Linked DNA regions of Homo sapiens: regions 2 and 3 are each linked to region 1. The links come from fine-mapping of genetic effects on gene expression. A gene starts in region 1. Each other region holds a variant in brackets. All regions are shown on one strand. Distances are between the middles of the regions.

Region 1 (8,177 bases):
GAAAAAAAGAAGAGGACCCAGATGGCTTCTGCCCCAGCCCTCAGACCAGTGTTGAACACGATGGAGGTGTGAAGCCAGGCGTGAGAGAGAGGTGGGGCCAGCAGGCTCATCTGTCAGCAGCTCAGGCCATATGGTGCCTCCACCTTTCCTCCCGAGCATCCAGATCCCCAGTGCTCACCCCCACCTTGCCTGGCCACCCTGACTCCTGCAGAGCGCTGCAGCCTACTTCCTGAGGACCATCCAACCTGCACCCTCCTGGCACAGGCCGTGCTCCCAGGCCACAGTCCCAAATAAACCCCAAGGCACAGGGAACATATCCAATCAACTCCAAGCAACCCCAGGGCAAACCACACACTCAGTTGCCAGAGCACAAAGTCACTCTCTTGAAGGTTGGGGCTGCTGAGTGGAGGCTTCCGGTGCTGCAGGACAAGGGGTGGCAGGAGGACCACAGACACCCACAGCTGTGTCGACATCCTCTCTCCTCTGCAAGGCCTGGACTCCAATCCTGGCCAAGGCAGATGTACTCAGCCAGGGCAGATTAAAGCACGCTGAGTTACTTTCGTTCCCGATTAAAATAACATTGCATTTTTAAGTGCAAATTGTAAAATAAAAAAAAGGATGAAGTGATGGGTGAAACCAATCTTCCCACAAGGAACGCTCCTAATGGCATTAACCCTGGGGAGAAAAGACTCCACACTTGTATCTGGTTAGTTCCAGTAACACTGAAGAGAAACAGGAAGACATTTTCAAACTACACTTTCCACTTGCAAGTATCCATTAATCTCTTCTCTCTGAAGCTGGCTCCGTGGAAGCCTGAGATCAAAAACATTTTAATTCCGGTGAAATTCCTCTTGCTCATTTTTGTTTTGAGTTTTTTAAAGTGATGTTTGGGGAAATTTGGTCTGAAAGACAGAAAAATGCCGGGAACCTCAAGAGGCCGTGAAAGCACATTCCACCCCCCAGGCCTCCAGCAGACACTCCGGGCTGGGCAGTGGGCTCCCCAGTGGGGCTGTCCTGGAGCGGGGATGGGTCCCGCAGTCCCCAAAGAGCAGGAAGCCCACGGGGGAGCAGCACGGCAGCCACTGCTCTCTTCCCTTCTGGGAAACACGGCGTTTCTCGGTCTGACTAATCTAATGATGCTGGTTCCCAAAGACCATTTTCCTGTAAACTCACACCACAACATTCCTGTTAAAATTACATCTGTAGACAACTAACTTCTGGTTTATTCATGAGGGAGTTCACACGGAAAATGCAGAGGGGGAGGATCTAAGATGAGGAAGATGGGAGAGAGGAAGAAAGAGAAGAGCCCCCCCAGCCCCTGCGGGCACCCTGCTCCACTCTCCCGCCCAGGTTCCTACAAGAGAACAGGCAACAAAAGAGGGGCTCTGAGATGTGTCTTCCAGCATTGGGACAGGCAGAGCATCCACTCTTCAAGATGCCTGAGTAACATGAAAGTCTGGCTGACCGTCCAGTACCCTGCCTGCTCGCAGATCAGGTGACCGCCAGCAGCCCCCACCCACCCCACAGCTAACCTCCTGACCCCTGTTCCACCAGCTGGGTCAGTTCTCTACCTCCTCATCTACTCCAGGCCCGGTGCTGACCAAAGTGTTCTGGTTGTTCCCGGTCTCATCCCCACCCTGAGCCCCGACAGAGGGACTGGGTGGACACAAGCCTTGCTCAGTCTTTTCCAAAGTAGACGCACCTTTTGCACTGAGTCCGTCCAGGAAGAGCTCAGCCCCCACCAGCCCGCCCACTGCCACCGAGCAGCGGCTGGAGGCCCCGGGTTTCTCTCTGGCACTTTGTCAGTCTTCAGGAACCTCTCCTGCTCTCTCTGCACAGTACTGGGTTGTGCAAACTGGCATTCCAAGCGGCCCAGACATCACCAGACTGAGCAGCACCAGGAAGACAGTTAGTCAGGCTCTGACCCCTGTCTCCCCAGTGCAGAGTGGTGTGGGTCTCCTCTACCCACCACACCACCACAAATGTCATTGTCTGCACATTCAGTGACCCCAGGCCAGAGAGGAAGGGAGTGAGTCTCTGAGCAGCACCAGGGAGAGCGCCCACCACATCCACAGCAGGGACAGGCCAAGCTCCAGCCACCATCCAGGCTGCCGTTGGTCAGCTGCCAGAGCTGCCCAGCATGCACCCCCGTGGCCGCATACCCTCTGCCAGCCTCTCCCTGACATCTCCGGCACTAACAGAGCTTCCAAGTAGAGGCTGCTGCAACCCCCAGACCAGAGCAACTTTGCATCCCACATGGCTAGAAGGGGTCATCTCAGAGAGTGTTTCCCCACTCATGCACCAGGGGCATTCAAGGGAGTAGGTGACCACTGCCTTTGCCAGAATCTTCCAAGAGGGGCCAGAGCATTAGCTCTGAACAACTGAGGCTACCTCCAGATCTGTGGGCAATGGCTGAGGGTCACAAAAACCCTCGAGTGGCACTTTGGACAGAAGCAGCCCCCCTGCCTCGGGTCTCTGAAGAGGGCTACCAGGCCCTCTTCAGGGATTCATGGCCCAAGGAGGTCAGAGCCGAGGCTGTTCCAGAGCAGAAAGGCCTCTTTGTCCAACTCTCTGTGGCTCCTGCTCAAGCTCCTGGATCAGCAAGTACCCCTGGGAAGTTCGGCAAACGTCCAGGTGCCCAGGGGGTCGGGGGGACCCTGTAGGAGTCTCAGTCTCTACGGGACAGAAGAATCCATAAGACTGCCTCCTTCTCTTTGAAAACAAACTGCCCTCTAAGCCCTGACCCAGCCTCCTCTGCACAAGGAACAGCTACCGAGGGAGACAGGGCAGGGTCCTGCCTCTACTGATAGCAGCACCCTGGCTGGTACCACAGGACTCCAATCCCTGCTCTCTTACTCTTTTGTTTACCGTTAATTAACAGGGCCATATGGAAGGAGGCGATAATCACAGCCAAGGACCAATGGGAGGGGAGCCCGGGGTGGCAGGGAGGCTGGGGGCCGAGGGGAGCCTCCCTCAGTCAGCCCTGTAGAGGATACAGCACCCCCACTCCCCAGGCCAGAGTGAGGCCAGGACAGGCTCTGCTGGCACCTCAGAGGAGACAGAGGCAGAGCATACCCCTCAGCACCGAGTGGGCCCCCCCAGGTCTGCCCCACATCCCTCCCACCTTTTGTGCACTCAGCCACTGGCGTTAGAGGTGTCCTCAGTTTTCTGTGATTTAAAAGAAAAAAAAAAACTGCAAGGGCAAAATTCTCCACCGACCTCTCCCAAAAGGATAATTATAATCATCGCTGCCATTATCATCATCGTGACAGAGTCCATGCCCAGGACCAAACCCACCTGCAGCCACGGAACCCCCCGCACCACCGCAAATGTTTGGTTTCCAAAATTAAACACCCAACTTTACCAGCCAATGGTGTCCACTGATTCAAAGGTGATGCTGAGACAAGCAAAGCCCTTGGTGACTCAGGAGGAGCAGTGAGAACCCACCACTCCAACACAAAGCCACCAGCACTTGTTTATTTTCCTGGTTTATAGAGAAGAAAGTGAATTCAATAGACAGAACCAAAGTCCACGGCCCCAGAACTACAGACAATGGCATTAGGGTGTTCAACTTCTTAGCTAACCCTGATTTTTAGTTTTAAATACAAAAATCCAGTTACACTACCACCATAAACAACCACACTCCACAGCTGCACGGACACGTAGCGAAAAAAGGGGCTGAGAGGAGCGGCCGATATTTACTTCTGCACATCTATCCCACAGACGCATGCACCCTAGATATTGATCCTTAAGTTGAGAAATGCATGACATGCAGACAAAACGTTCACGTGAGCACCTCTCCTCAGTACCTTGGGTGGGGGTCACACATGACACACCCCAGACTCTGAGACCCTGCTTCAGAGAGGTCTTCTGCTTAAGCGGCCAGTGCTCTCCCCAGGTACGGGGCTGCTGGGTCCCACGGCCACAGACATATCCGTTGTTCCTCTTCCAGAAATGCGCATAAAGTTTCTGGTTTTGATATGCGCTCCCCTTCCCCTAATGTCTCCTCTGTCAGACGCACAACATGTCCCCTGGAATCTCAGAGGAGCATGAACAACAGAGAGACAGGAGAAAAACAGCACACGGCAGGCCAGGGAGGAGAAGAAAGCCCCCGTCCTCCAGAGCAGTTTCAAAAAGCCATCCTCAGACCTGCTTTTCCTGCAAACAGAGCCTTCATCTTAGAAATTAACTCTGCCCGCGCGCCCTCTCCCTGTCTCTGTCCAAGAGGAAAAGCCAAGCGTTGGGTATCTGCCTTTGTCAGAAAGAACGTAACGTTGACTTACCTTTCCCCACAGCTATTGTCTGTCCTCTTTCAAAATGACATCACGGAAAGCAATCATGAAATTTACATGGGGGGTGCAGGGTGGACTGGGGGAGGAGAGGGAAGGCAGCTGCCTCCCGTACAGCGGTCACATGTGGGGAAGCCTGCGTGCGGGTTTCAATTAAATATCTTCTCCCCTTAGTGTGCGAACTCCTAAGCCAGCTAAAGGCGACGTCTCATTTACTTAATGACTGCTCTCATTAGCAGCGGTGGCACGGGCTGGCGGAGGAGGCTCCTTTGTAAATACGCTACCCATGAACCCTTGGGGCTCCAATATATCTGTTTACTCTCTGAGGTGAAATAAATTTACAGTATAGCATCAGAAAGATGGATCTGCTGAATTGGGGGTGAGAGGTGTCCCAGTCCGGTGGAGTCCTGTGTCCTGCTCTGAGCCTCGGCCAACAGAAGGTGCCTATGTTTGTCCACACTGATTCATACTCAATGTGCAGCATGATTGAGTTTTTTTAAAAAGCAAAACACACAAAAGGGCAGAGAGCATCACAACCACCACATTCACCCCCCTCTGCTTTCTCTGCCAGTGGTTCAGTCCAATAATTCCTAATAGCAGCAACCGGAATGACAGATGCCCCGGGTTAGCATGGCTACAGCGAAAGTACTTTACAATATTTATTGGTGGTGAGGAATATGATCTACCATCATAAAGAGCGGGCTGCAGAATTTATTACTCAAATGAACCAGGAATATTACATATCGGCTCATCTGCATATTCAAGTACCCCTGACTTAAATGGATATGTATTTTTTAACGGCATAAAAGGTAACTATAGCCACAGACCAAAAAATAGAGTCATGCACACAAAGAATAGATCAGGAAAAGACATTTTTCTGTTCTCACACTTTCCCTTTTCACTTTAATTTTTACAATAATAAAAACCTTCCCAAAGAGAACTCAGGGATTCCTGGGCATGGGAACCCCCCCACAAAAAGACTAAGTTTATTGCAACCAGAGCGAAGCACACTGCCCAAGTTTTCTGCTCTTTTCCTGATTCTTTTATAAACGGCCTGAAAGGAGCTATCCAGTGAAAATCAAGAAGAGAAAAATCCATAACACACACAATAGAAGTGCTCACCCACTCTCTATGCAGCCTGACTGTCTGCCTTCTCATCTGCCAGTTTGTGATATTTTCCCCCACATTCAGGGATAAAGTGGGAATTTCTTCAGTAAGAGAACTCAAGAGCCAGAGTATTCTTGTTTGCGGCCCAAATCTCCTTCTTGTACTGATAAATCAGGCAAACGATTGTCCATTATCATAATCAGGATGTTAGAAATGAAACTGTGAAACACAAGGGTGAAAACTCAATGTGAGACGCCTGCAAAGATGCCGCCGTCCAAGGGCAGCTGGAGAAGCAGAAAACTCACATCTCAGAAGTTCAGTGCAGAGATTTCAACAGACAGTAAACATCATTTCTTGGTAAATTATGCAAGAGCACAATACCCCAACTTAATTAGCGCTAAAGGGCTCGGGCCACCAAAAGTGTGACTGAGGCAGAACTGAACACAGCTTTCTCTAAGAGAGCATGTTTTGAAAATCTTAGTGGCTTATTTTTAACATACAGTTTGTGCTTTACACGTTACATACAAACCAAAAGCTTCACCCCAAAGGCAAGTATCTTAGATTCTTATACGCACACATTATCCTCAACAAATAAAACACAAAATGCACACAGAGCAATTGTTCAGATTGAGCACAAGGACATAAATGCAAGCCTGCACTGGTCAAACTGAGGATGAAATATTAATTAGTCAAATGAGAACAGTTCGAGGTTTCCACAATGACTGCCTACCATTTTTAATTTCTGTCATAAACTTATATCCATTAGTATAAAAGGACACATTCAGCTGAGAGCACTCCTGAAAAGCCGTTTCTGTCTCCTCTGGACATGCTGTGAGTGCTAGGATGTCTTACACCCCAAACCTTCGGCATTCAGAAATTCTATTAAACTCTTATCGGCAGGCTGCAGGCTCCGGGCAGGCTTGCGGGCCATTGTTCCATGATGAATACAGAATCAAAGGGAGGGCCGTTGCTGAATCAGCCTTATTTCCCAACGACACCCAAGGTTTCATGAAAGCGACTTAATTCAGATATGCAACAGTCACACCTAAGAAACCACAGCGAAGCGGAGGTGGCAGCAGGAGAGATGAACCTGCGCAACACGGGCTTCGTGGGGCACAACAGTTTTTTCAGGTAATAGAAATTGTATTTGTGAAAACGTAAGTCTTTCGGCATTTCTCACTTCCCCTTTTGAACAATCACAGGCCTCCTGAGGTGTGGCGCTCCGGGGGTCGGGAATGGGCCCCCAGACCCTCTGTGGCGCTGCCAGGAGGAGCATTCAGAATGTGCCTGGAAACTTGAAATCGGTGCCTGCTGGCAGGACCTAGGGCGCCCTGGGAGCTCCCACCGGGAGGTTAAAGTGCTATGAGCAGTTTCCGAAGATGAGCTTTGATGAGTAAAGGTTCGAAGTCTTTAGCTGACCCCGTCAAGACAAAGGAGTCCAGGGAAAAGAGCAGGACAGAAGAGCGGCCGCCGGCACGTCTCTCCGGTTCGGCTGCCGCCCTTCAGCCCCTGGGAGGCGGCCTGAGCGGTGGGTGGATCCGAAGTCTGATCAGCACTTCGGACAGCGCTCTCCCCCCAGAGCGCCTCAGTCTTTGTTCTCCGCACACGGAAGCTTCTGAGCTCGCACCAGTATTCAGCTATCGCTGAACTCTGGGCTCCGGGCTGAGACAGAGAATTCCAAACCCCAACAGATCCCTGCTTGTAAGTGACAACAGCAAGGTATAGTCTTAAGCTTCCTTTCTTAGAGAGGGTGAAAATTTGTCAGGACTTTTTGAAATCATAAAATATTTTCTCTTCCATAACTGAGCATGTTGCACGCTGTTCCTTTGGGTTTTATTTCATAAAAGTCTGTGGGAAAGTCACATGTGACTTTTTAATAATATGTTTGGAAAGATCCACCAGGAAATAACTCCTGTCTGACTGGCGGGTCCTCAGACTCCACACGGGGAGGGAAACGGGAGATTTGCAAAACCAAACTTACGCCGCAGCCGCACTCGCTGAGAAAGCGCTTTGTGTGAGTGGGGGAGCAGGCTTAATGATCGCTTAGCTGGTAAGATCATTTCAAATAAAGTGTAATTACTTGTGCAAATCTGCACACAGACATTCCAAGTGTCAGTTCATTTGCTTCATAAAAACTCTTTCAAGTAATTTTGGTCTAAACTTTCTGCATCTGTAATTGGCACCACCTTCTCCGGTGACCAGCTGGGGGTGAGGGTTTTCTTGTTTCCTTCTGAAAGCTTCCCCGCAGATGGGCGCCTGCCTTAATGCTGCAGACGACAATTAGGGCCGTTGTGTGAGGCCGAGATGGTGAGCATTAATATTGTATAGAACAGCTGAGGGCGGGGGTGCTGCCCCAGGCCGGCCCTGGCAGATGGAGCAAACAAAACCGGGATCCACTCTCCGCCACACTCGGGGCTGACTTTGTGTTTCTGTCTCACACTCACGCAGACGCTCACAAACATTTGGCATCCAGTTTGTGAGACCCTCACATACATATGCACACTCACACACGTGCACTCACACACACAGCAACTTTGAGTGTGATGAGGACGCAAGCAGCAGCGGCCCTGGCCAAAGCCCCTTAGCTACAGTTAAGTCCCAGGGGACATCTGTCGCGCGCACGCGCGCGCGCACACACATTCTCTCTGCCACCTTCTCACAGAGTCTCACAGAGCCTTGCTCCAGGCCAAGGGCTCCTGACACCCACCAGCTATATGGCCTGCCAGGCAGATCCAGGCAGGTAAATCAACAGAAAGAAGGCCCAGCTGGCCTCTGCACACA
Region 2 (8,177 bases), 62 kb before region 1:
TGGCCTTAAATGGTGTTTTCCTTTCCTTCGTTCTGGGTGTTCCAGGAGAGGGATAGAGGCCCTTATGAAAATAACATAAATTCAGATTGGCAAATGCCTTGGGCTCAGTGTGGGTCAGAGACAAACAGGACAGCGCAGAGGGCCCAGGCCCATGACCTCTCTGAGTGTCTGTCCCCACTGCCTCAGGGAAGGACCTGGACCAGGACTTGGGGAGCTGAGGGACCACGTCATCCAGGAACCCACGCCAAACCCAGGACAAGATCTTCAATCTGCAAGGCTCATTCTTATCTCTTCATAAATGAAACTCATCCAAATTACCGTTTGTCACACACTCCCTGTGTGCTGATTACCTGGCAACACAAGACCCCGAGAGGTCACCATGGCTCCATTTACGAGGAGATTCATGGGCATACAGGGAAGTCACTGTCAGCGCAGGAAGCGCTCGGGAGGACGGTAGCAGGGGGCGGGGGCGGGGGCAGAGGCTCCCGCCGTAGGGGTGAGAGGCGGCTCAGGGCTGCGCTGCCCAGTGGAAGGTCAACAAGGCCTGGACAGGGAGGGCAGCGTCCGGCTCCTTGCCCCCACACTCTGGCCTCGTCTCTGAAGCTGCCGTTTCAGACCCTTCCCAGCCAACTCGGCCAGGACCCTGCTTTCTCTCTCTCCACAGGCCCCTCTCTTGGTTCTTTTCCCTTTGTTACTCATCCCACCCACCTGGCCCTCAGAAACTTTTAGGACATTCCCTGAGCCAGTCCGAGGTCACCTCATCCCCGTCCAGAGCAGAGACACTGCCAGGGGCCCCTATGGGAGCTTTGGGAAGTTCACATTCAATGTCCAGCCCCCCTCTGATGGGGATGGCCCAGCCATGGGACCCTGGGGGACACCTGCACCAGGCACAGACTGGCTGGGAAGAGGCTCTGTGGCCAAATGGGGGGTGGCTGGCTCTTCAGCTACTCTACACAGTCGAATCTGAATTATTATTAGTAGTAGTAGTAGTATTTTTGAGATGGAGTCTCGCTCTTGTTGCCCAGGCCGGAGTGCAGTGGCACAATCTTGGCTCACTGCAACCTCCGCCTCCCGGCTTCAAGCGATTCTCCTGCCTCAGCCTCCCGAGTAGCTGGGATTACAGGCGCCCGCCACCACGCCCGGCTGATTTTTGTATTTTTAGTAGAGATGAGGTTTCACCATGTTGGCCGGGCTGGTCTCGAACTCCTGACCTCAGGTGATCCACCCGCCTCAGCCTCCTAAAGTGCTGGGATTACAGGCATGAGCCACAGTGCCCGGCCCAAATCTGAGTTATTTTCACTCCCTTTCTTGCAAAACACTACTCCCCTTCATCAAGGGAAACTGTTTTTGTTCCCTTGAATCGCATACATGGAGAGGATTTCAGATTTCAGGTATGTTCTCTTTCTCACAAAACCTGGTGTGGAGACTTTCAAGCTGTCAGGGACATCATGTTGAGAGGTGCTGGGGCGGTGGGGGCAGGCACTGAGCTGGTGAGGCCTCTGTGCTTCTTGGGTGAGCTAGTGTTTCCTATCACGTGTTGGGGGGCAGAAGCCGTGTGTGCCAGTGACATGAGAAACATGGCCAGGACCAGAAGTCCCCTCCAGGGACAGTGGGCAGGGCAAGGGGAGCATTCACCTCTTGACTCCCATGCTGGAACCTCCGCAAGACTTTTATGACCAGTTATAAAGCTGTGGCAAAGGGATTTACCACCAAGCGCCTGATGTGACTTAATTTTAAATAGCGCAGGCAGGAGATATCATAAAAAGGACTCCTGTTCCACCAGGCTCCCCAAATCACAGCTCATGCATGCTGACGAAATCCCATCCCTCAGCATGACCTGACACATCCATTCCAGTTTCTGCTTTGATATGCATCTGTTTAAATATGCTAGGCAATTACAAGTGCAGTTAAAGTTTATGGCTGGGAAGGAACCCTGTAAAACGGAGGGTTCAGTAGTCAGGTTCCCTCTGCCATGGAGCCTCTAGGACCTTCCTCTATCCTGCAAATGCTGAAGTGTTTCTGAAAGTCACAGTCTCCACTCGGCTGCAGAACTCTTGTTTTTTTTTAAAGCTCAGTTGACAGCACATTAGAAAGGAAAACCATTTTTCCTGGTTAATTTGAAAAATGCTGATCTTGATTTTAATCATTTGCAAATGCAGCACGATTCACTTATAATATCCCTGCCAGCAGGATCCTTGCCAAATCCATAAAGGTGTTGCACTTATATGATCATAGGCAAATTCCTGGATTCTCAGGGGCAAAATGCTTTTTATCCACCTCAGCATTTAGTGTGCGACCTTCATAGTACTAACAACCAAAATTTTGCATTGTTAATTTAGCATTCATTACAGTTTTATTGTAAAAATTAAATAAATAAACAAGCCACAGCCTATTACACCAAACAGCTGGTGGGCCCATCCCCGTCTGAAGGATGTGATGTTGGTCAATTAGGCTCCTCCAGTGTGGCCGGGTGTTTGGGCACAGCTGGAGCAAACTACCAGGAGGAGCAACCCAATCTCAGGCCAAGTTGCCCCTCCCCGGGCGTGAGGTCTGGCTGCTCTTGGCCCAGCAGGTAACACAACGAGGGCAACCTGCTTCCTGCGGGCATAGTAGGGCCCCGTCCCGACCGAGCCGGCCCCTAACCCTGGGCAACAAGGTGTCCAGAGCCATCATTTCCACTCTGCTCACCTGCTGGGGAACCCACTGCCCATTTTGCCAGATGTCAGCTCTGAAAGTACCTCGGTCCTGGGCAAAATGGCCAGTGGGTCACCTGGTCTGAGTCTGTAGCAAAGCATTCCCCCCACCTAAAAGTGGGCAGTGCAGGGGACCCGTTCCCTATTGGGAGAATAAGCTTGTAAGGACACAAACCCCCACCAAGTAGGATAACACACAGAGTCAGGGTTCACCTATAAGCCCCACAAAGACACACGAGCCCCCACCCTGCCCCAGTGAGAAGAGCAATAGAGGAGAATCTTTTCTCCTCAAGGACTTGGGTCACTTAAGGCCCAAGATGTCCTCTTTCCTTCACCCAACAGTGTCTGGCTCCCAGTTTAGATCCTCCTGGCTCTCTCAATCTACCAGCTCTCTGCACAGGTGTGTGGGTGGATGGACACATGGGATTTGGAGCTTCAACATTGTTCTAACCACCTTCTCCTCCTTGACTCCTGCATCTCACCTTTCCTGCCAGACAAATTCTGCAGGTTGCAAGGCCCTGGGGCCCACTCCCAGGTGGCCCTAAGACATAGGTAGAAGGGTGCTCTGCCTCTCCCAGCCCCGTCAAATACTCCAGACCTGAAAAGCCCAGAAAATCTGGCACCCATGCCCTCCACGCGACATCCAGGGCTCCTATCTTCACAGGTATCAACGTGTAGCGTATGAGAGCTTCCATAAAAATGAAAGAAACGAAAGTTGGCGTTGGTCAGTTAGGTGACCCGTTGTATTAATGAAAAGGGAATCTAGTAGGAGTTTTTTTACATTATAAAACACACGAAAATCTCAATTCCGCAATGCAATGAAAGAGCCAGCATGGCCCAACGTACTTCATCAGCTCGGGGTCCTCCTTGTCGTCCTTGGTGGGTGCCACCTTGACTCCACTTTTCTTTGCACGAGGGCAGCCGGACAAGCTGATTTCGAAAGAGGAAAAAAGGCCACCTTAGTGCTGGAACCGCAGCTTCTCACACCCGTTCATCTCACCCTCTCCCCTCAAGCTCTGTGACCCCAGGGTGGGGTGGGAGGGAGTGAGGGCAACCGATGGGTCAGTTGTAAGAAGCAGAATCCACAGACACAGCCTTCACACGAGGCAGCAGGGTCGGGAAGGAGAAGCATTACCACGAGCCCCTAGCCCTGACCCCTTGTCTTTTTATCTTACTGCAGAGGACAACTTAATCAGGTTCTGGAAATGGCAACAATTCAGATTAAAGAGATGGGAATGGACTCTAGCTGTCAGCAACATTAGTGTCTTCTAATCTTCATATAAGGAAGAGACTCCCTGCCCACCCCTGGGGCCCAGGACCTGAGGGTGTGGCAGGCTCACCTCCGGTGTGAAGCGTAGTTCCCTGTGATGTGGCCAGAGCCGTCACAGCCGGGCGTGGGGCACCTGCAGAGGGAAGCAGAACTGGAACGGGAGCCCGTGAAGGCGTTTAGCCCCGGCCCAGAGCCCTGGGACCCCCA[G/C]AGGAAAGCCTTCTGGGCTCAGCCCTTGAGTGCGCCCACCCACATTCCCTTGTCCGCAGAGGAGCATCGCCGATGTTCACCCCGGCTGCCGACTGCCAGCAACAGGGGTCTGATGCGATCATCTCAGGGGTTCAGTGCTTTGCTCCCCCGTCTCCCCGAGGGAGACCAGGAAGTCTGAGAGGAGAGCAGCCAACTGCTGCTCCAGCATCGGTTTACACCCAGACACCAAACCTGGGCACTGGGACAGGCCTACAGGGTCCACTGCAGCCAAGGACACGAAGGGCTCCCAGCTTGGACTTCTGTAGGGTCCGGTCTGGACTAAAGGCATTCAGAGCATATCTGAGCCATAACTTGAAGCACAGCCTAAGACCAGTTCATCTTCTTGGATGGGCTGGGAGCTTGCCCTCACAAAGCGTGGCCACCATGGGCTGGTAAATGAACAGAGGCCTTTTTGCACACCTGCTGCAGAGCAGATGGCGCTGGCCATGCCAGGCCTGGCTGTTGTATAGCATGACTGCAGAGTTCACACAGCCAGTGGCTTACAGCAGAGAGTAAGGAGGAGAAACACAAAAGTCCAACTTTACACACCCAAAACTATTTGACGAATGTATCACATAAGGTGGTACAAAATTCCACTTTAATATTACAAGCACGGATGTTATTTTCTTCCGAATGTCCACTGAGGAAAAAATATGTGAGTTCCTGCTGATGTTAGAGAGTGGGAGGAGGTGACCTGATTCTGCGGGTAGATCCATCCCCCGTCAGGCCTGCTCTCTGTGCCTCACCCCTCCTGACCCCTGACCCTGCAGGAGCCAGGCAAGAGTTCAGTGCTTGTGTCCAGATCACCTGCTGCTCAAAGGCACTTTGCAGTGGTGCTCAGACCCCAGGGAGGACGTCTCACTTTCCATGCTGCTGGCCCTTCCTCACCGGAGTCTTCCACCAGCACATGTGACATCCGGCCACTGGGACAGGACATCTCCTCGCTTGGAGGAAGATGAAGCCGGGCACAGCCTGGCACCCAAAGGGCTGTGGCGGCACAGCAGGGCTGGCCCCACCTCTTGCAACCTTCTCTTCGGCCCCTAGGAGTTTTTTTGGGGTGCCCTCCTGGGGAGCCTCACATTCCTTCATCCTTGCCCTGTGGGCCACACATTGGATACCTTGCTGGCCAGCCAAGAGAACTGAAGATGGCCTGCCTCTCCTTCCTGGGTTGGCAGCTGTTCAAGTGGCCACTTGGGGCTCCAGCTCCTTGTCTCAGTGGCAGCAAAGCATCAGGTAGAGCTCAGGTTCAGTGCGGTGGGCAAGTGGCCACTCAGGTGGCCAGAGTGACAGACCCACAGCAGCTCTAGGCCTCAACGGGGATAAGCACAGCATTGGACTGTGAGTGGCATCAACAGCAGAGGAGATACTTCCCGATGGCATCTGTGAGTGAGTCTCAGGTGGGGGTATAACTCCCAAGGGGCCGGCAGTACCTAACACACAGGGGGGGCCATCCTGCAGTCCTCACTAAGGCCCGATTCAATGGCTTTTCTCAAGAGTTGTGTCCCAGAGAGGAAAGTACTCACATAGTCAGAGGAGCAGGTGTCCCCTCTGCATGCCCCTCATGGCTCTGTGGACCCCCAGGGTCAGCTGCAGGAATCTGGAGCCACATCCACCCCTCCCACCACCTGCTTCTGAGTGCCCCATCTGGGCAGAAGGGAACACCGTGTCTGAGGGGCACCCTCTACCTTGGCAATACACACCAGGTCTCACCTCTCTAAGCCCCATCCCCGTGCTGTGGACAGGCATTCTTCACCCTGCACAAAGCCTGTCATGCCCTGGCAGGTGTGTGTGGTTGCAGCTCAACTCCCAACACAAGATGAGCTGAGTGGCCCGAGGCGGCCATGTCCTCACAGCCCTTGACCACATCAGACACATGGGAGGGAAGAGTGAACGCCCTTGGGATTCACTTAAAACACAGAACACACATCATCTGACTGTCGCTGCAGCCAGGTGCGGACAGGGAAGTCATGAAAGGAACCTCGTTTGTCCCAAGGCCACCGTCACCCATGGCTGCCACGAGGCTGATCAGGAGGGGCCAGTGCCCGATGCCGCCTCACACAGGAGGTGGCAGAGAGCAAGGAGGTTGGTACACCAGGACACGTGGCGGGGGGAGACCACCATCGTCCCAAGCTCATGCAGTGGTCGGAGGGAGGAAAGGAAGTGGCCTCCCATGGAAAGGCCCCTGGGGGAGAGTGGAGTTTCTGAAGGAGCCTGGAGGCCGTGGCTGCCTGCCCAAACCCTGCTGATGCTGATGAGCGGTTCACTTTCACACAGGGGAGGCTTTTGGTCGTTATTTCTAAAGAAGTTTGGCGTTAAGGTTCTTCACAGGCTCTTAGTCTTAAAAAAGCACTAACTCTCCCAGACGGCCATGTCTCCAGGCCCGAACTGTGCCAAGCTCCTTTCATCCGCCCAAGCATCCACTTCACAGGACAGAAAGGACATGGTGACATTTGGGGCCACTGAGTGCCTGCAGCCACATTTCTCCTCTTAAATTATTCAGGCCCAAATGGGAAAAACCATGGAGACTAATCACGGAAAAGAAAGCAGAATTGGAAAAGGAAAAAGGAATGCAAGAAAGATGGCAAGAGAAGAAGGAAAGAGGGAGAGAGGACAGTCCCAGAAGCTGCAGGACTGAGTGTTTCCTGGGTTTCTAGGACTAGACAAAGTGGGCGGCAGAATGAATGAATAAGTCAATGTGTGCAGCTGCTGTGGTGATCTCAGCCTCAGAAAATGCTTATGTTGAAGCTATTAACTTCCAGGAAGGAAACTTAGATGCTGCACCCCACTCTGTGGGAACTGAAGGGCCTCATGACACACTCCTCCTGGCTGCTGGGGCCAGACCAGCCTCCAGAGGGGAACAGAGACAAGGCTGCTGGTGGGGGCTCTGGGAGACCTAGAGCTTTCTGTCCAGGTCTGAGCCAGCCAAGGTCCCTAGAAGCCTTCAGCAAGTTCATTTCCTCATCTTAGAGGCACCAGTGCCCAGGATCCTGTCTGGCCCCAGAATGGAATAAGCCAGGGTGTGTTGACCTGGATTCAGGGCCCCCAACACAGAGGCCTATGGGAGGGAGGGACACCCCTGGAGAGAGGTGACCTGAGGAGACAAGAATGGGACCCCCTTCCTCCAAGGCCTCAGCTCGGCCCCGGTGCCCAGGAGGAGCTCCCCATGGCTCAGGGTCACACAGGCTGAGGAGTCACAGCACAACTGGAGGCATGAAAACCAAAGGCAGTAACAGTCCCTGACTCCAGCCCCAGGAGGACACTGACCCCTGGAAACCTCTGGGTGCTTGCGCCTGGTTGTGCAGGACTGTCCAGCAAGCTATAGCTGGTGCCTGCAGGGCCTGCCCTGCCCATGTGTTAGGTAGGGGCAGGGAGGTACAGAAGCAGAAACGGGTGAGCCCAGCAAAGAGAAGGCATGAGCATGGGGGGAGGGCATCAGGGCCAAGGCAGAAGCAGCTGGAGCGTGACAGGAGAGGGGAGGGGAAGGAGCTTTCTCTTCATTATCAGCGTTCAGTTCATTTAGCAAGAGCCGCACAGCCTGTGGCCTGCCGAGCCACGGCAGGGCTTACGTTCCCTGGTCGGTTCTGGGCTTTTCCCAAATCTCTAGGGCAGTAAGAAAGCAGGCCCAGACAGCCCTGTCGGGGATCTTCAGGAGAGGCTGGAGGGTGGGGGATGGGTCAAGAGCAGCGCAGGAGCCTGCAGCGACCCCTAGCCCCCAGCGGAGAGGCAAACAGCAGAGCTCAGAGCAGGTGCACACAGGCAGAGCAGCCCCAGCCAAGCAGAATCGGCCCCTCCACGGCCCTGCCCCTCTGCCCATCTCAGGAGAGCTGGGGCCAGCTGAGGCTTGGCACCTTGGAGAAGGCTGATTTTGGCAGGAGCCTCATGGAAGGAGAGCAAAGCGAGGGTGCCGCCCAAGAGACAGGAGGTCAGGGAGCGCAAACATACTTGAGGTCAGCAGAGTGGGCAGCCAT
Region 3 (8,177 bases), 44 kb before region 1:
GGTCATTCAGATGTGAGAACTCCAGGTGAACTCCAGAGAAGCCCAGAGCCGGGAATAACCCTGTCATTCTGCAGGACAGGGGTTTTCTCTCTGGCTCTGTTCTTGAGCCCTCACAGTACAAGCTGCCCAGTCAGTTTCTGTTTTGGAACATTCTATGCCAAGGACACACAAAGATGAAATATATCCTAAAGGCCTTGAAAGCTCTGGGCAAAGATGCCTCCTCTGCATGGGTCTGGGAGACAGGCTTGCCCTCACCCCCTTCCTCTCCCTTCCCAGCTTGCAGGGCTGGATTCTGCAGCCCTCTCTGGCGCTTGTTCTGTTAGCTGCTCTGGGGCAGCCCAGGGCCCCACTTGGACCACAGCCTGGGCACTGACCCTGGATGACACAGGCCCAGGAAAGTACTCAGTCTAAGACACGGAGGCAGCAGCTTCATCTGTCAGAATAAAGTTAACTGTGAGCTCCAGCGCCAGTCCCTCAGCCAGCCCAGGGAGGTGACGTAATGGGGAACTGGCCTCTTTTCAAATGAAGTGACCTCAAAAGCTCTGGCAGTCCTTTCAGCTGAGCATAAGCCTGCTGGGGGAAAGCATATCCCACCGAGGCCACGGCCACCCATGGCACTTAGGGTAAGGCTGGAGGAGTAGTCCCCCCTCACCATAGAAGACCAGTCAACAACTACACCTCGAGGGTGGTCGGGAAGCTTCACTTCCACCTGGGCCTCAGAACTCCCACAAAGCAGCCCAGAGCACAGTCCTGGCCTGCCGAGGTTACTGTTCATGTCTGCCCTTCCCACTCAGGAGCAAGAGCCAGTGTGCAGAGGTTTTCTGAATGTGGGTAGGACACAAAGTATTCACCTGGCTCTCACATGGTTGTTGTACCTCTCTTCACAGAGGGTGCATTGCTCCCTCCTCTGCAGGCCGCCCCCTGCTCTCTCGGGAGCTCGTAGGGTTAAGGCAGCAACACCACTGGGTGACTGCACCTCCAGTTGCCACTCTGCCCTCACAAAGGCCCCTCACCGCCCAGGTGTGCCCTGACCTTGTACCCACTCCTCAGGGCGGCAGGCTGGGAGAAGGGTAGCACACAGGGAGCCCCAGGCAGGCCAGAGCCCCGTCCCAGGTCACGGGCTCACGGCCCAGGCAGGGACACACAGGCCCAACCCAGGTGCCCTACCCCACGTGGAGCCCCCCACCACGGCCCCCACCCTGGCCCCCACCACGGCCCCCACCCTGGCCCCCACCACGGCCCCCACCCTGGCCCCCACCACGGCCCCCACCCTGGCCCCCACTACGGCCCAGCTCAGTCCAAGTACCTTCTGTGCGTGTTGCGGTTGCTGTTCACGTGACCCTGGCCTGTGCAGCCAGGAGTGGGGCACTTCAGCACGTTCTCATGCATGGCTAAGACTGTAAGAGAACAGGGGGTGGAGGGAGCCGAGGCTGTCAGAGAATCTGGGGAGCGCCAGCTGTGTGGGGAGCACAGGCTGAGGAGGGTGCAGGAGCCTTGTCCAAAGGCTGCTGCTTGGTAGGCAGGTGGGGGACACAGCAACGCAGGGCAGCTCCAGCCCCCAAGAGCCTGCAGACACAACTCCCCACCCTCAGCCTGGTCAGGGCATGCCCCCCACCGCCACCACCACTGTGGTCCCTCCCTCCTGCGGCAGAAACCAGACTCAGCTTTAAAACCTCTCATTCTGTGGTTTGCTCCTTTAAATTTAATTTTCACAATTACTGCTTCTAGCCTAAACATAAGAACAAGTATTTGCTTCCTAAGCTTTCAGGGCACAGAGGTTGCTGCAAGAAGACCTCTCCCTTCCCAGCTTGGATGGCACTAGCCTGTCCCCCTCCCATCGATCTGTTACTGTGGGCTCTGACCCGGACTGGCGTCTCTAGGTAGACAAATGGGCTGGTTGCAGGGCCCCAGCCTCAAAGGGCTCAAGTTTGGGCTGAGGGAGTTTGTGGGGGAAAGCGGGGAGATGTAAGGATGAGCATCTGGACAAACCAAAGGGGAAGGTTATGGCCCTGGGCAGGCCACGCCTCCCCATAGACACCACCCAAACACCACAGAGGCAGCGTGAGCTTCACAGTTAGGGCTAACGCTGCACAGAGCTACTCACTCTCTGGGGGGATCCTATCCTTGTGGGGACAGCCAGAAAGGCTGCGGTGGTGAGGGTACAACCCGGTAACGTGGCCAGTGCCATCACAGCCTGGTGTTGGACACTTGATCTCACGCTTCTCAGCTCTTGAAGGATCTAAAACACACAAGTCACATCAGTTAGAGCCAGGAAGCTGGGTGGTGAGCAGAGAGGGGGCAGGGGTAGCTCAGGAACCCTCTCTCTGGCTGTCCAGAGAGAAGGGAGGCGAGACTGCCCATGAGCTTGAACAGGGACTGGGGCTGGACAGTCAGGAGACCCTGAAGAAACCAGCCCACACTGGCTGCCTGTGCGGAAGCCCTGAGGCTGCCCTGACAATCCCAAATAGCAGTTTGTGCAGCGTTTTAAGGAGAACAACCCAGACGGCCGCTGGAGTCCTCTTTCCTCTCTCCTCTGACAGTGTGGAGGCCTCATGGGTCAGCCTTCTGCCTAGAGAGGTCAAGGCGTTTGGCAATATTCCTGCCAGGAGATATCCTTGGGATTTGACAAAACGAGGAAGACAAAGGAGTTGAGTAACTTATCCAAGGCTGCATGACTAATCTATGCCTGGGCAGAAATGTAAACCCAAATCTCAGTTATCGACCTCTTCTAGCCTCTGCAGGTCCAGGCCGGTCACTATAGAGTATAGGGACCAGCAGGAACACGGAGGACCCTCAGAGCAGAGCTGACATCTCAGTGAAACACCTTTGGACGAGAGCTGTCCCCTTTGGGAGGGTGCAGAGGTCACAGAGCCAAACTCAGAACTCCCACCTCAGAGCAGGAGGGTCCCAGGAGGGGGCTCCAAAGGGAAGGAGCTCTTGCTCTGCTGCCCCAAGTTCAAAGGAGTCAGACTTCCACCCATGTGGACAGGCAGGGGTGTCCTGAGGGGCTTCCAAACCCGTGCCCAACACCGGCCTCCTGGGCTTGCCACCCCTGTCCCACGGCCTCTGTCCAGAATTCTCGCAGCATCTGTGCCCCAACATCAGTCCCTCAGAACCAGAACCGCACGTTCACGTTGCACAGACACTCACAGCCCAGCTGGGCACTGCCTGGTGTTCTCAGCTTGGCCACCTGTGTCACCCGGGGCCGTGTCCCTTTGGGTCCATGCACTGAAAATCTATCCCTGAAGGCAGGATGCCTTGCATCTGGGTCCTCCTATGTCTGTCCCACAGGTCTGAGACCCTCAAAAACCTGGGCCTAGGGCTGTCACTTGGTGTCTGTGTTCCTCATATGTGTCCCACCAAATTCTGCGCTGATCTGTGCGGCCCAAGCACACCACAGCCAGGCTAGTAACCACCCCGGGCCCTTGACACCTGTCCCTAAGTCTCACCTTCAGCCTGTGTCTCTTTGTGCCCATGGCCCCACAAGGCCGGAGCATGACACTGCCGACCTAAATCTGGGTCCCCAAAGAGCTGTCCCGCCATCTGGGTTGCCCTAAAGGGTGTCCCCGCAAAGCCATTCTTTGGGTCCATCTCACCCTGAAACCATGTCCCCACCTGTGTCCCCTTAGCATCTTTCCCCTGAGCTTGTCTCATATGCCTGGTGTTCCCGGAAAACATGTCCCTCGTGTCTCCACTGACCTGCCTATCATGCCCCTTGAATTATGTCTCACTCAGGTCTGTCTCTCCCATGACCCAAGTGCATCTTCCCAGGGTTGGCAATTCCGTGTCTCCTGCATTTTTGGTTCGTGGCTCCAGCACCTGAGTCATCTCCCATCCCAGTTCTCTCTCCTTATCTGCTCCCTCCCTGGTCTCAGCTAACTCTTCCTGGGGGCACTCATTGGAAGAGCACCAAGAACTCCCACTGCCCCCGTCCACCTGGAGAAGA[G/C]ATGCAGGACTAGACATGGGGAAAAAAGAGGCCGAGATCAGGGCAGGTCCCTAGTCTTAGGAGAATAGAGGCCAAGTGCCCAGGTGCAGGAGGCCCTCCGCACCAGGCCGGCTGGGTCAAAGCTGACCTGTCCAAGGCCTGGCCTCCCTGGCATGGCTCACTGAGGGAGCAGCCCCTGGCCAGCCCTGCTCCCCAGACCCCTGTCCCAGGAGGAATCTGAGATGGGCAGTCAGCAGAGCAGAGCCAGCCTGTTGTCCAGACCCTGACACCCCAGTAACAATGAAGGCCGTAACCGTTTACTCAGGATTCGTCCTCAGACCTCAGCACTCCAGGCTCCCAGCTGCTCCCCAACCACATCAGCTGCTTCCCAGCTGCTCCCCAACCACGTCAGCCCAGCCCCAGGCCCCTCCAAGCAGCCCTCCTTGTCTATCCTCACCTCAACATCAGCCACTCCGTGCGATCAGGGGATGGCTCCCCTGTACCCTGCACACTTTAGAGCCAAATCCAGAGACAGATGCAGAGCCAGCGGCAGGCTGCTCCCTCTGAGGAGCAAGGGCACCCCTCACATCTGCCTGCTGGTCTCCACCCCACGAGAGGATCAGGATGACCCAGCATGGCTGTAGGAAACAGCGGGTTCTGTCATAGCACAATCCCTGCCACGAGTGTGAGTTGGGGTGGAAGGGACAGGACGGTCCCCACCCTCTCCAGACCCCAGATGCTGCTGTGACCAGTCACTGTGGGTGGGTCACTGTCCCTCCCACCTCCTCTCTCCCACCTGGTTCTTTCTCACACGTCTCCGCTGTGTCTCGCTCCAGATCGCTCTATGTAAAGCAGTGTGGGAACCCATTTGCTCAGTATCTGACCACAGTCTGTGTCATGTATTTGTCCTTTTGTCTGCTTTTCTGCCATCCCCCAGCCCCCTGTCCTAGAAGGGCTCTCAGCCTGCATCTGCACACCTGGGGCAGGGGTGAAAGGATGAGTCTGCAGGGCCAGGCCACCCCTGAGCCCTACCTTTACTGTAGTAACTCTTCCGCACAGTGTCCAGGGGCTTTGCTGCCTTCCCTGGCTCTCCCAGGCCCAGCTGGCTCTGCTCGGCAGGCGGGCAGCCCGGCTCGCAGACTGTGCGCACCTGTTCAGCCTTCAGGGCGATGGCCTGCTCCAGGAGGCCCAGGTTTCCCCGGGTCATCATGTCCTGCATCTCCGACTCGTCAGTGACTGTTGACTTCCGGGAGTGGGTGTCCTCGTCCTTGTCATCATCCGAGCGGACCTCCACAATAACAGAGTACTCAGGCTTGGGACTGGGTGATTCTGGGCCCCGGAGCTCAGGGGCCTTCTGGGCAGAGGTGTGAGAGGTGTCTTCCTGAAAGATCACATCAGGAGCTGCCTCCTCCTCCTCCTCTTCCTCTTCCTCTTCCTCCTCCTCTTCCTCTTCCTCCTCCTCCTCTTCCTCTTCCTCCTCCTCTTCCTCTTCCTCTTCTTCATCCTCCTCCTCCTCCTCTTCCTCCTCCTCCTCCTCCTCGTCCTCCTCTTCGTGACTCAGGATGCCTTTCTGCTTGCTGGACTCCTCACTGGCTGCATCCTCCAGGGACTGGGGACACAGGTCCTGGGAGCGCTCGGTGGTGACTTCGACGACCTCCTCGGCATCCTCTGGCTGGATGAAGAGGCCCTTTTCACCCTCCTCGCTGGCAGCTCCCTCTGCAGCCTCCTGAAGCAGGTGCACAATGCCAGGACCTGGCTTGGCCGCCTGGCCCAAGTCCTCTTCCACCAGGGTCTCTTCAGCAATTTGACCCAAGTTCAGGAGAGAAGTTGCGATGATTCCCTGGTAGCTGCTGTAGCTGCCCTTGGAGGAGGCAGTGGCGCTGCCGATGGGGTTGGATCCAAAATGGGACTTGACGGGGCTCCTTCCTGCACAAAATCAAAATCAACGTGGGGGCCAGAGAGCACGTGGGAAGACTCCAGGTCTCCAGTCCCCAACACACCCACCACCCCTCCACCTGACCTACCACTCACTCTTTATACGGGAGCCAAGGGGAAACATGAAACTCCAGAAGTGGGGATTTGGTATGGACCTTTCTGTCAACCCTTCTGCCTGAATCCAGAAATCACGGTGAATATATTTTAGGAGGCAGGTCATGGGCCACTGATGTATTTTTTAAACTAAGAATTACTTTGATACTTTTTCTTAATGTTCCTCTCCCATCACGTTTACTTTCCCAAATCAGATAAACCTGCATTGTATACAATGGAGCTTAAGCAGCAAGTCAGATTTTAAAAAAATAATAATAATTGTTTCATAATTGAAAATCAGTAAATAAGAATGGGCTCGGTGGCTCATGCCTGTAATCCCAGGACTTTGGGAGGCCGAGGCGGGCGGATCACCTGAGGTCACGAGTTCAAGACCAGCCTGGTCAACATGGCGAAACCCTGTCTCTACTAAAAATACAAAAATGAGCTGGGCGTGGTGGTGCACACCTGTAGTCCCAGCTATTCCTTGAACCAAGGAGGAGGAGATTGCAGTAAATCAAGATCGTGCCCCTGCACTCCAGCCTGGGCAACAGAGTGAGACTCTCTCAAAACAAAAACAAAACGAAACTAAGATATGGTAGGTGCTCACCACATGCAGGCCCCGTAGGGTTGTCAGCAAGGACACCTGGGCCAGCACGTCCCACAGTGGTAGGAATGGGCCCTGCCATCCACCTACTTCGGAGGGGAAAGTCCAAGCCCAGGTTGACAGCTGAACCCCAGACGCCCTTCTTGATAAGAAAGCAGGAAAATGTGTGTCTTTTCTACCTGGGATCTAGGACTATGTTGATTCCACGGGACAGCGCACTCACTCCAGAGCCCCCCAAGGGAGCTGGGGTTGAGGACCCTCTCTGGCTTTGCTTCTGAAATCCATCTCAGACCCTTCCCCACTGCAGAAGCTTGGGGAGTGCTGGGTGAGTGGTGGGGATGGTGGGGGGAGTGGACCTTGGGCCTCATCTGACCCCAGGTCTCTACAGATCTGCCAGGGCTCTCAGGGGCACAGACCCCTCCCTCCGGGACCCAGGGGCCAAAGCACCTGCTTCATGCACTTTTGCCAAGGGCTAGGAGCTCCAACATGGCAGTCCTGGTAGACCCCACAAGGAAGTGGGGGACTCGTCTGCTTTCCTCCTTCCCCTCTTGGCCTCCCCGGGCACCCCGTCTTCAGAGGCTCCATCTGGTCCTCAATCACCTGAAGCTCAACCTGAGGTGTTTCCTCAGCATCTGCCTGTGAGTACCTCAGGGGAACGCAGACCTCTCACCCATGCCCCCAGGCAGGTCTCCCAGAGGGCCAGGCAGAACAGAGGGCCAGTCTAAGATCCTCCCTTCCCCACTTACAGACACACAGAGACACAGCCTTGTCTGTCTCTCTCATATACATGCAGACACACCTGCCAAAACACACTACAACTGCACACACACACACCAGCCCCGTGTCTCTGTCTGTCCTGCCTCTCTCCTACGCACACAGTGTTCACACACAAACACACCACAGGCCCCATAAACACCATGGGCAGACCTCTCTCCCAGGAAGCCCAGCACATGTTGGGACAAGACATGCCTTGTTCTCAGGAAGGGCTTTCTCTTGCCCGGAGTGAGCCCCTCCCCGCTCACAGGCTGCAATTCTCCAGGGCCACACTAAGCGCCCTTTATTCGGGGAAGAAAGAGCGACAAAGCACCTTCAGCTGTCTCGGGGCGATGAATCTCGTCCTGTCCTGACGTCTCAGCCTCGGCCCCCTCCAGAGTTCCTTCCGATTCATCCGAAACAGAGGCGTCCTTCACCTCAGTGTCCTCACTGCCGTCGCTGTCCACACCATAGCCCTCGTCCAGAGCCAGCTTCAGGGGGTGTGACTTCCTCTTGGACACCAGGTGCTCAGCCTCAGCGCCCTCCAGCTTCCTCTTCTTGGCCAGGGGGCAGCTCTGTAAACTGGGAGGGAGGAGTAGGCAGTGGAGAGGACCAGGCTAGGGCCACGAGAGGCCTCAGACACCCCATGAGCCCCTCCCGAGGGTCCTCCCTCCCTCCCTTCCCCACAGACTCATCCAGTCCTTGCAGGGAACCCGGACAAAAAAAGCAAAGTGCAGCACTAGGGGGTCAGATGGTCTGTCTTCGCCCACATGGCACGCCCATGGCCACACGGACCTCCATGCTAGAGTGGGAAGTCGCTGCCTCGCGGGAGGTCAGATGGTCTGTCTTCCCCCACATGGCACGCCC

Which allele goes with the higher level. Alleles are on the strand shown, and positions count from the first base shown. SD is a standard deviation of normalised expression in the study named. Not every link is listed here.
As copies of G replace C in region 3, the expression in thyroid of the gene that starts at base 4,571 in region 1 goes up (small effect, 0.39 SD a copy in GTEx).

What was found. PIP is the estimated chance that this variant, and not a neighbour inherited with it, causes the effect.
Region 2: its variant is fine-mapped to the expression of MYT1 in thyroid (GTEx, PIP above 0.99).
Region 3: its variant is fine-mapped to the expression of MYT1 in thyroid (GTEx, PIP above 0.99).

What each region holds. Positions count from the first base shown.
Region 1 is chr20:64,160,846-64,169,022 of GRCh38, reverse strand. MYT1 (myelin transcription factor 1) reads right to left here and starts at 4,571. Exons shown (of 23, transcript NM_004535.3): 1 at 4,284-4,571. RefSeq lists an enhancer at 6,213-7,693.
Region 2 is chr20:64,223,334-64,231,510 of GRCh38, reverse strand. It overlaps MYT1 (myelin transcription factor 1), which reads right to left. Exons shown (of 23, transcript NM_004535.3): 16 at 8,152-8,177; 17 at 4,034-4,096; 18 at 3,540-3,623. Among named protein-coding and RNA genes, the nearest start is that of PCMTD2, 28 kb to the left of the region's middle. RefSeq lists enhancers at 4,672-5,171, 7,118-7,973. The variant G/C (reference allele first, on the strand shown) is at 4,171.
Region 3 is chr20:64,205,268-64,213,444 of GRCh38, reverse strand. It overlaps MYT1 (myelin transcription factor 1), which reads right to left. Exons shown (of 23, transcript NM_004535.3): 6 at 7,645-7,892; 7 at 4,958-5,851; 8 at 2,105-2,239; 9 at 1,307-1,397. Among named protein-coding and RNA genes, the nearest start is that of MYT1, 45 kb to the right of the region's middle. RefSeq lists an enhancer at 1,606-2,105. The variant G/C (reference allele first, on the strand shown) is at 3,947.